Homo sapiens: one gene and its partner. The protein of the gene in region 1 purifies or fractionates together with the protein of each later gene. This does not show direct contact. Each region holds a gene or a part of one and is shown on either strand. Other genes may lie near its edges.

Region 1 (5,131 bases):
TCTGCCAAGGTTCAAGAAGAAAAAGCTGAGCAGGATGCTAAATAAGGGCAGAGAGAGATGACCCTGCTCCTCCTAATCTGCCAACAAATGATGAAATAAGAGAAGCATGAAGGTCATTGGGGTAGGAGGAACATAGGACACAGAATTTAAGGAGGCGCTCGTTCTCAGGGGTCAACAATGCACTCACAGGACCTGAAAGTGAGCGCCTCCTTAAATTCGCGCCTTGGTACTTTACCCACCTTTCCCTCATCGGCCCGGATTGGCCCCTCACCTTTGAGCACTCTCTCCTCCTTGCACAGACACTGGCTACCAAGATGCCTTCTTTTGGCACTTTGCCCCACTGGCTCCTTAACTGGCTTCGCGACCTCCCTCTGGGTCCGTTCATGTGTCGAGCCCTGTGTTCTGCTTTTTGCTCATCTGAAAACCTCCCTGGTGAACATCCCGGGAGGGGATGACGTCAGAAGCCCCGAGGTCGACGTGTTACTCCTGTTCGTGATGTGTTGTACGTGTTTCCACGCGGCCCATCTGGAGACAATGCCTCAGGGCAGAGTCAGGCTTTGATGGTGGGAGTTTCAAGCTCTCTGTGAGCTCTCTGTGGGGTGGCTGGGATGTTAAAACCCAAATTTTACCACCCAGACTTGCGGAGGAAGCCATCCTGGATCCTAACCCAGAAGGGATTAAAGGTATCCAAAAGGCCCAGAGCATAAGTCAGAAATCACATTCAGTTCAGCAAAGCTTTGTTGAGCACCGACTCTGTGCTAGGCACTGTGAACATACAACAGAAAGGAGCATCTGTCTCATGCTAGAGGTATTTCTGCGTGTGACTGCCTTCCCCGCCAGGTCAACAGTTTCCCAGGGAGGGACTTCATCTCACTCTCTTCTATTGTACACCCCGCCTCCGCTCCCTGTGGTGGCCTTGGCTCCAAGCACAGTGGCATCTGGGCTCAGGACCATGCATTTAACTGGACTGATCTGAATACAGTTAGCCACCTGATTAAAAACACCGGAAAACCAGGTGTGGGCGCAACAAGGCTGTCTCTCAGTCCTGATCCCAAATAAGGAGGCAGATGAGACTGGGGGACGCAGGGATGGATGCATAGGAAGGGATCATGGCGGAGTTGTCAGCCAGGAATCATGGGGCTGCCTGTGTGCTGCAGGTGCCAAAGAGACCTCTCTGCAAGCCACACTCCCCCTGGCATGATCTCATTGGGCCCTTCACTTCTCACTCCTATTTCTGGAGGGATGTTGTTCCCTGCTTCTCAGCTGAGACTCTGGGCCTGACATCCAGATTGTTTTGCTATGCTCAGACCCCCAGAAGCTCCTCCTGAACTTGATCCTTGAAACTTGAGCTACTATAGAAAATAGAATAACAATTAATAGTTATTAATTATTGAAGTATTTAATAACCAGCAAGGCAGGGGCACCGGCCAATCGGAAGAGACACATAGCACAAGACTGGCATCTTGGGGGCCCCCCCAGTGCCAGTCATTCACCGCTCTTTGCTGGTCTGCAGGGAGCTCCAAGGGTCATGGGAAAGGAGGTGGGTATCTGGACTGGGGTGGGGGAATATTGAATACTCAGGGCCACTGAGTATTCAATATTCTTATAATAGATACATTCACACTGGGGATACTGGCTAGATGTCAGCCTCATCGCAGCTCACTTGGCTATCAATCCTGACTGTTTTATGTACGTATATATTTTTTCCCAATGCACAGATAAACTTACAGAGAAAGAATTCATTGAGGGGACACTGGCCAATAAGGAAATTCTGCGACTGATCCAGTTTGAGCCTCAAAAAGTGAAGGAAAAGATGAAGAACGCCTGATGCCAACTGTTCAGCTGTCCTCCCTCCACCTACCACTCACATGACACCCGTGAGCGCCTGTGCACACACACACACATGCACACACACGCGCGCGCACACACACACACACACATCCACCCCAGGGCCAAGAGAAAGGCCTGCACACAAGCCCACAGCACAGCTCCCTGCCAAACTGAAGCATCTGTAGTGACCCACTGGTTCCTTCTTCCTGGGTCTTCAGCATTCCCTCCCATCATGCCCGGTCCCACCCCTCCCTCTGTCCACCAGCCCATGGCCCTGTGCTAATCCCAGGATTAGGCCATAGGAGTCCTAAGTGTCACCCCGCTGTAAGCTCCTTTGTGGAGTGCTGGGTAAGCAGTTTCCAATAAACGCAAGCTGAGCTGGGCACGTGGCTGCTGGTCATCCTTCAACTGGAAAAGGAAATGATTTCTATCAGTCACACCTCAAAGACAAGGCTGTGTTGCGATGGCAGCCCTAGGCTGGGCTGCTTTGGTGCGGAATGAGTCTAATGCGGTCCTGCTGTCATGGAGCTCATGGTCCAGAGGGGACAATGAACCTGGAAGGAGCCATGACCAGTGGCCCAGGTTACCATGGAAACGTGCAGAGCACCAGGGGAGGACACAGTGGAAGGGGCTGACTTGTCAGGGGGGATCAGGGACCACATCCCTGACGAAGGGAGATTTAAATTCAGAACCACTGCACACGAGGCGGGGGACGGGGTCGGGGTGGGGAAGTCTCAAACAGAAGGCGGCCAACACAGAGCCGCTGAGGCATGAATGACCATCTCGAGTTCCAGGAGAAGGTCGGGGTGGCTGGAGGGTAGAAGGAGGAGGGAGAGCAAAGTGTGAGCTGAATCTAAAAGGTAGGCGGGGGCTGGACCACGCAAAGCCCTCCCTGCAGCCTGTGGTAAGCACTTGGGGGCTCACCATGGGGACAGCGGTGCCACTGTGGAGTTGGAAGTAGGAGGGGTTTATGTTTGTAAGAGAAGTCCCCAGCAGGCTAAAATAAGTCAGAGAGGAGCAACTGGGGGCTCCCTGGAGTCAGGGAGCCCGATGAATAAGCTTTTGCAGCCACTCAGATGGCCTGGGCCAGGGGAAAGGCAATGGGATGGAGAGGACCAGATCCAGTGAGGACACATTTAGGAGGTAGCATCCACCTGGCTGGCTGAGGGGGCAGGAGGAGAGAGGGCAGGAATGGCAGCCAGGCCTGTAGCTTGGGCAGTGGGTGAATAGCAATGCCATCTATGGAGATGAGAAATACAGAGAGTCTTTGGGGTTTCAGGGAACAATGATGAATTCAGCTTCAATATAGTATGAGGTGAAGGCAGAGCCATAGATGGCCCTAAAGCCCCTTGTTTTAGAGACAAGGAAAAGGAGTCCCAATGACAGGAAGCAGCTTGCCCAAGGGCAGCCAGCTGATGAGCAGAGGTCAGGCAAGGGCTACCCACCGGCCCCCAACTGCCTCCTCAAAGCTCCAGGGCCTGGGATACCCAGGAACTCCATCAGTGCATTCTCCAAGATCCCTGGATTTGTTGCTTTGAAGGCCCATTTATTCTCCAGCCTCAAGTTCCAAGATGAGGTCAGAAAAATGCATGGATACCCTGGATTCTTGACTGACCTGTCTGCAACCTCTTGAGGCTGAGGAGTCTCTAGTTGCTGGTATTGTGGTGATGCCTCCAGACCCCACTTTAGCCACAGAGATGACACAATCACCACTGCCAAAGAGCACTCCTCTGTGTGGAGAGCAAACGTGAGAATAAACACTTATGAACCGTGCACCATGCTAGACTCTGCCATCATTATTTCATTGATGGAGATGTTATTATCTGCACAATACAGATGAGGATACTGAGGGCAGGAAGTGTGAGTAGGAGTTGGTACTTAAACTGGAGTCCCTTTGATTACACCAGATTTCTCCAATAGTTTTGACCTGGACACAGCAGGATAGAGAACTCTAGGATTGCACAATGTCAGAGATGGAAAGGGGAAGGAGGCTACAAGGCATGAGTCCAGAGGTTCTGGGAGGAGAAGGATTATTACTAGAATCATCTACCCAAGGCATTCTCCCATGTAGACATAGTGGGCTATATAGAAGCCAGTTCAGTGGGAGATAAAAGACTCTGTGGGTCCAGTCCAGAGTGTTCTAGGAATATAACCAAAGGGCTCAATGCTCTTTCCACCACACTCCATGAATGAATCTGGTTGCTTCGAGGATGAGGCTGGGGGCTTTTCACTTCTCTCTGAGGTCAGTCTATCATTGTCACTTGAGTCTAAAAGGACAGACACTGCATAATTAGGTCCTTGCTGGTTTGTGGTTCAATGGGAGAGCCAAAGAGTGAAAACCTAATTAGTGCCTCTTTTTTTAGCTTAGGGTGGAAGGACCACTTGGGCTGAGATTCTCTACAGCTGTATGACACTTTGTGGAAAATAAAGCATGAAGTTCAACTTGGCCACAGGGAAGAGGAGGTGGAGATAGTGATGAGCTATGTCATCAAGACTCTTCCAGATGCAAAAGGTAGATGACCTGGCACAAATTATTGTGGCACAAATAGAAATTGCTTGGCTCTTATAGCTGAAATTCTAGGAGTAGGGCTAGCTTCAGGTATGGCTTAATCCAGGGGCTCCAACAATGTCCCAGAGTTCATTTCTCCCTCTCCTGGTTCTGGTTTCTGCTGTCACCACCATTCTCAGACAGGTTCTTCCCATGCTGGCAGGACGGTCACCAGCAGATCCAGGCTGCCTTCTTCATGGTTCCAATTTCAGCAGAAAAGAGAAAATGCTTTCTCTTAAGAGTCCCAGCCAAAGTGTCAGGATTGCATCTCACTGTCTCTGGTTAGTTATATGCCCATGCCTGACTCAATATCTGATGCCAGAAGGATGTACTGCTCTGCTTGGCCAGCAGATTTTTATGCCCATCCTTGAACTGAGGATAGAGTCAGGACAACTCAAGTTCCGTGGACTGACAGTAGGAGATGAGTGGTTTTTCCAAGAGGAAAATTGGGGTACTATAAGAAGGGCAGATTCTAAAAATAGATGTCTACTATAGAGACCTTGGGGAAGTCATTTCCTGTCTCTAGATCCCTGACTCCTCAAGTACATGTAAATTCAAGGGCAGAAATGGGTCTCATTAAGAGCAATAATCCAAACTGCCTGAGCTTCTGTTGCCACCTGCCCACATAAGATCCCAGCCCCTTGTGCAGTGTCTCTTGGGCATTTTTAGCATCTCCAGGAGGTGTCCCACACAGATTCACCCATAGATCCCTTAGTGCCAGGTGCCATTGCTGCCCTCAAGTACTACGTTCCT
Region 2 (4,344 bases), on another chromosome or scaffold:
CCATAAGTTGATAATTGTGAAGCTGGGTTTAGAGTTCATGGGAGCTCATTGTATTGTACTCATTATATAGAAATTTTGTACATGTTTTACATTTTTCACAATAAAAATGTAAGCAGAAGGATTAACCAGGAACTGTGCTCCCACCAGCACCTAGAAGTAGCTGTCTGTCAACGGGCATCTGAAATCTCACCCCCCACAGGCTGGCTCTTGTAGTGTAGTAAAGTTTTTAATCCTGCCACAGGACTTCTAAAGAACACATATAGTACCACATTTTCATTTAAGGTTTATTTCATTCTACCTGAAAACACACAAGTAGCAGCAGTCTCATGTTCCTTAAGTGTTTGAACTGCCCAAGTGAATCTTGTGGATAGAATGTGCTAGATTATATTAAAAATTCCATTGCTGCTGACATTAATTTGAACAAATTCAAAATAATGTTCTTAATGAAGAGAATAAAGTCCATTTACTCAGTGGTTGGTTCATACTTTATTTCACAGCCAGGTAAGTCAGTTTCTGTCTCTGGCTTTCCTGGTTAACAGCACCTGTGTCTGAAGAGAGGTGGAGGGAGTAGTAGAGAAAGTCCCTGGTAGGAGAGAGGCCTTAAGTGAACACCATCACTGTGCACTGAAGGGCTGTTTGAAGTTGTTAAGAGAAACATGTGGGCTGGGCATGGTGTCTCACGCCTGTAGTCCCAGCACTTTGGGAGGCCAAGACAGGTGGATTGCTTGGGCCCAGGAGTTTGAAGCCAGCCTGGGCAACGTGGTTGAGACCCTGTCTCTACAAAAAAATAGAAAAATTAGCAAGGCATGGTGGTGTGCACCTGTGATTTCAGCTACTTGGGAGGCTGAGGTGGGAGGATTGCTTGAGCCTGGGAGTTCAAGGCTGCAGTAAGCCAAGATGGTCCCATGCACTCCAACCTGGGTGACAGCGAGATCCTGTCTCAAAAAAAAAAACAAAACCAAAACAACAACAACAACAACATGCGAACTTTGGTCTCCTACCCATCTCTAACAAATGGTGGGGCTTACTATGAGCAGAGAGGGGCTTATCATAGAGTAACGGTTCAGAGCAAGGGCTTTGGGGTCAGACTTGGGCTTGAGTGCCAGCTTCACAGTCAACTGTGACCTGAGAAAAGGGAAGAGTGAGCCCTTCCCAGCTGTTTCAGAGAATAATGGTAGAATAGTAGCCTGCACATGGCTAAGTGCTCAGTAAACAACAAGTCTTATTATTAGGTATTCCCTGGGGCCATATGTTTTATTTCAGCTAAATGCTGATATTCGTAGAATCATGTAGAAGAATGTGTAGGTATAAAGGAATGTAATGGTGCCTTTTTATTTTACAGGGTTCTTGAAGCTTTTGAGATTAACAATGGCAGGAAAATCATCACTTTTTAAAGTAATTCTCCTTGGAGATGGTGGAGTTGGGAAGAGTTCACTTATGAACAGATATGTAACTAATAAGTTTGATACCCAGCTCTTCCATACAATAGGTGTGGAATTTTTAAATAAAGATTTGGAAGTGGATGGACATTTTGTTACCATGCAGATTTGGGACACGGCAGGTCAGGAGCGATTCCGAAGCCTGAGGACACCATTTTACAGAGGTTCTGACTGCTGCCTGCTTACTTTTAGTGTCGATGATTCACAAAGCTTCCAGAACTTAAGTAACTGGAAGAAAGAATTCATATATTATGCAGATGTGAAAGAGCCTGAGAGCTTTCCTTTTGTGATTCTGGGTAACAAGATTGACATAAGCGAACGGCAGGTGTCTACAGAAGAAGCCCAAGCTTGGTGCAGGGACAACGGCGACTATCCTTATTTTGAAACAAGTGCAAAAGATGCCACAAATGTGGCAGCAGCCTTTGAGGAAGCGGTTCGAAGAGTTCTTGCTACCGAGGATAGGTCAGATCATTTGATTCAGACAGACACAGTCAATCTTCACCGAAAGCCCAAGCCTAGCTCATCTTGCTGTTGATTGTTAGATTGTTGATGCATTCTAACCAACTCACACATATACACAAAATCAACATGGGGATGGAGAAGAGAATTAGCGTTTGCAGCAGTGTATCATCTACTAATAAAATTAAACTAATGTTGCTGCTTCATTAGTTGGTGGGAGAAGGGACACATCCACTCTTGGAGGAATATATTTACTCAATAATGGCACCTTACATTTATAAATTGTAACAGTTGTCTAATAACGTTTCTTTAATTTAAATATGTAAGTTGCAGAGCTAATAAATGAAATGACCAAGACTTTAATTATAATAAAAATAAGAAACTTGACTATTCTAGAAGTTATACTTGGATTTTTTCCTGGGAAAATGGAGAACTACTTTTTATATGTGTATGTTTTTATGCAATTAGCATTGTATTCTTGGTTCAGGGAAATACTTTCCTAAAGCAATAATGTTAGATATTAAAGATTAAAATCTAATGTATTTGCAATGCATTGTTAATTTACTTCTTCATTCTCTTCAAAATGATTTAACCATTCCTGTTTTCATTCTACATACTAGAATTACTCTCACTAGTAATTACTCATCATTTGTGTGCCATTCATGCACCCCCACCCCCATAAATCATGTTCCACAGTCTCAGGCGGAGGGTGGGCCCCCAGTGGTACAAGAGTTGCTTCATACAGTCTGTAATACATCCAGCTAAATTCAAGTTGTCTATGAATGGAAAGCCTTTCCATAGATAGAGTTCAGTTTTAAGAAAAAGGCTAACTACTGAACTTGGAGAACAGACAAATGTGCATTTGATAACTGATGTAATAATTACAATGTACTGTGTGGAAGATACAAAATTACAATTCGATTAATGGACTAAATATTTTTGTTACTTTCTTGACCCTTGGGGAAAGTTTCTTAATTGAAGTTAAAACATTCCTTTATAACACAAGACACAAGCTGACTTTATCACTCTCAGAAGAAATACTAAGAAGGATTGTACTTTGTGAGAGGGTAAACGAAGACATCTTTATTCGGCAATGTATTTACTTAGTGTCTTCTCTATTACTGAACATTTAGTGATTTGCTCTCAAGGAGATTTTTTGTTAGAAAAAGACTTGTTGCAGTGATCAGACTTGATAAAGCAAATTGTGGTCTTTTGTGGATGAAGTTCATATGCTGTGTGGTTGGTGACTATCTGATTCTATGGAGGCTAACCAAAGCCTAGACTGAGTGTGGATGAGACCCTCAACTGGGGAGTGATGGGGATATCAAAGGACATGCTGGGTGAGAGGAGCTGACTGTCATGTAGGGAGTGAACCACTGCCCCCAGCAGAGATACAGTTCGGTTTTAAGAAAAAAGGCAAGGCCAGGCGCGGTGGCTCACGCCTGCAATCCCAACACTTTTGGAGGTCAAGAGGTCGACACCATCCTTGACAACATGGTGAACCCGGTCTCTACTAAAAATACAAAAATTAGTTGGGCATCGTGCCTGTAGTCCCAGCTTCTCGGAAGGCTGACGCAGGAGAATCACTTGAACCCGGAAGGTGGAGGTTGCAGTGAGCCGAGATCACATCACTGCACTCCAGCCTGGTGACAGTGAGACTCCACCTCAAAAAAAAAAAAAAAAAAAAAAAAAGCAAACTACTGAACTGGAGAACAGACAAACCTGCATTTGTTAACTGATGTAACAATTACAATGTGCTGTGTGGAAGATACAAAATTACAATTCATTAATGGACTAAATGTTTTTATTTTTCACCCTTGGGGAAAGTTTCCTAGTTGAAGTTAAAACATTCCTACTATTACTTGTCTTAGAAGAAAACCTTTTTATATTTCTGTACAAACTTTTCATTTTAATATTGTGACACCACCATGCAAGTTCTCACACAATATCCGTGTCTTGTAGAGTAGTGAAGTGTTTGTTAAGTAGAAAAACACACCAGTGTGGTACCCAGTGAAAGGTGGTGTCTGGAGAGTCAGTGGTTTCTGGAACTCTGGACTGTCAACCAGGAAGTGTTGAAGTGACTGAAAAATTAAAGCACATGGGTAATAGCATGGGCAGAGCAGAGACTGAGACGATCTATGTCCATGCCAAAGGAAGCATCCTAGTAAGTTTCTGGCTATGGCAAGATGACAAAACTCGGTGTACGTTTTATCTGGATCACTTTTGGAGCACTAAAGCAGATAACCAACTTTGTGCTAACATACATGTGCTCAGGAGAGCCTGATTTTAAGACTGACTTCACCCCATTGCTCTTGTGTTCCAGAACCTTCAAGGAACATCACCTACCAGATCCAAGCTTTGCCAGCTTAGCTTTCCTCATGATCAGCTCCTATCTATCTATCAATCAATCAGCTGTCAGTTCCACCCATGTGCCCAAGTGCTCTTC

The links. The genes of interacting proteins can lie anywhere in the genome.
Region 2: the proteins of RCVRN (region 1) and RAB9A purify together in Homo sapiens (affinity purification with mass spectrometry; 2 studies listed by BioGRID and IntAct, with this or other methods). This does not show direct contact.

The regions. Positions count from the first base shown.
Region 1 is NC_000017.11:9,894,792-9,899,922, reverse strand, and holds the end of RCVRN (recoverin), read left to right. Parts: intron 1-1,718; coding exon 1,719-1,828; 3' UTR 1,829-3,603; downstream 3,604-5,131. UniProt on the Homo sapiens protein: Acts as a calcium sensor and regulates phototransduction of cone and rod photoreceptor cells. Modulates light sensitivity of cone photoreceptor in dark and dim conditions.
Region 2 is NC_000023.11:13,707,379-13,711,722, forward strand, and holds the end of RAB9A (ras-related protein Rab-9A), read left to right. Parts: intron 1-1,342; 5' UTR 1,343-1,368; coding exon 1,369-1,974; 3' UTR 1,975-3,126; downstream 3,127-4,344. UniProt on the Homo sapiens protein: The small GTPases Rab are key regulators of intracellular membrane trafficking, from the formation of transport vesicles to their fusion with membranes.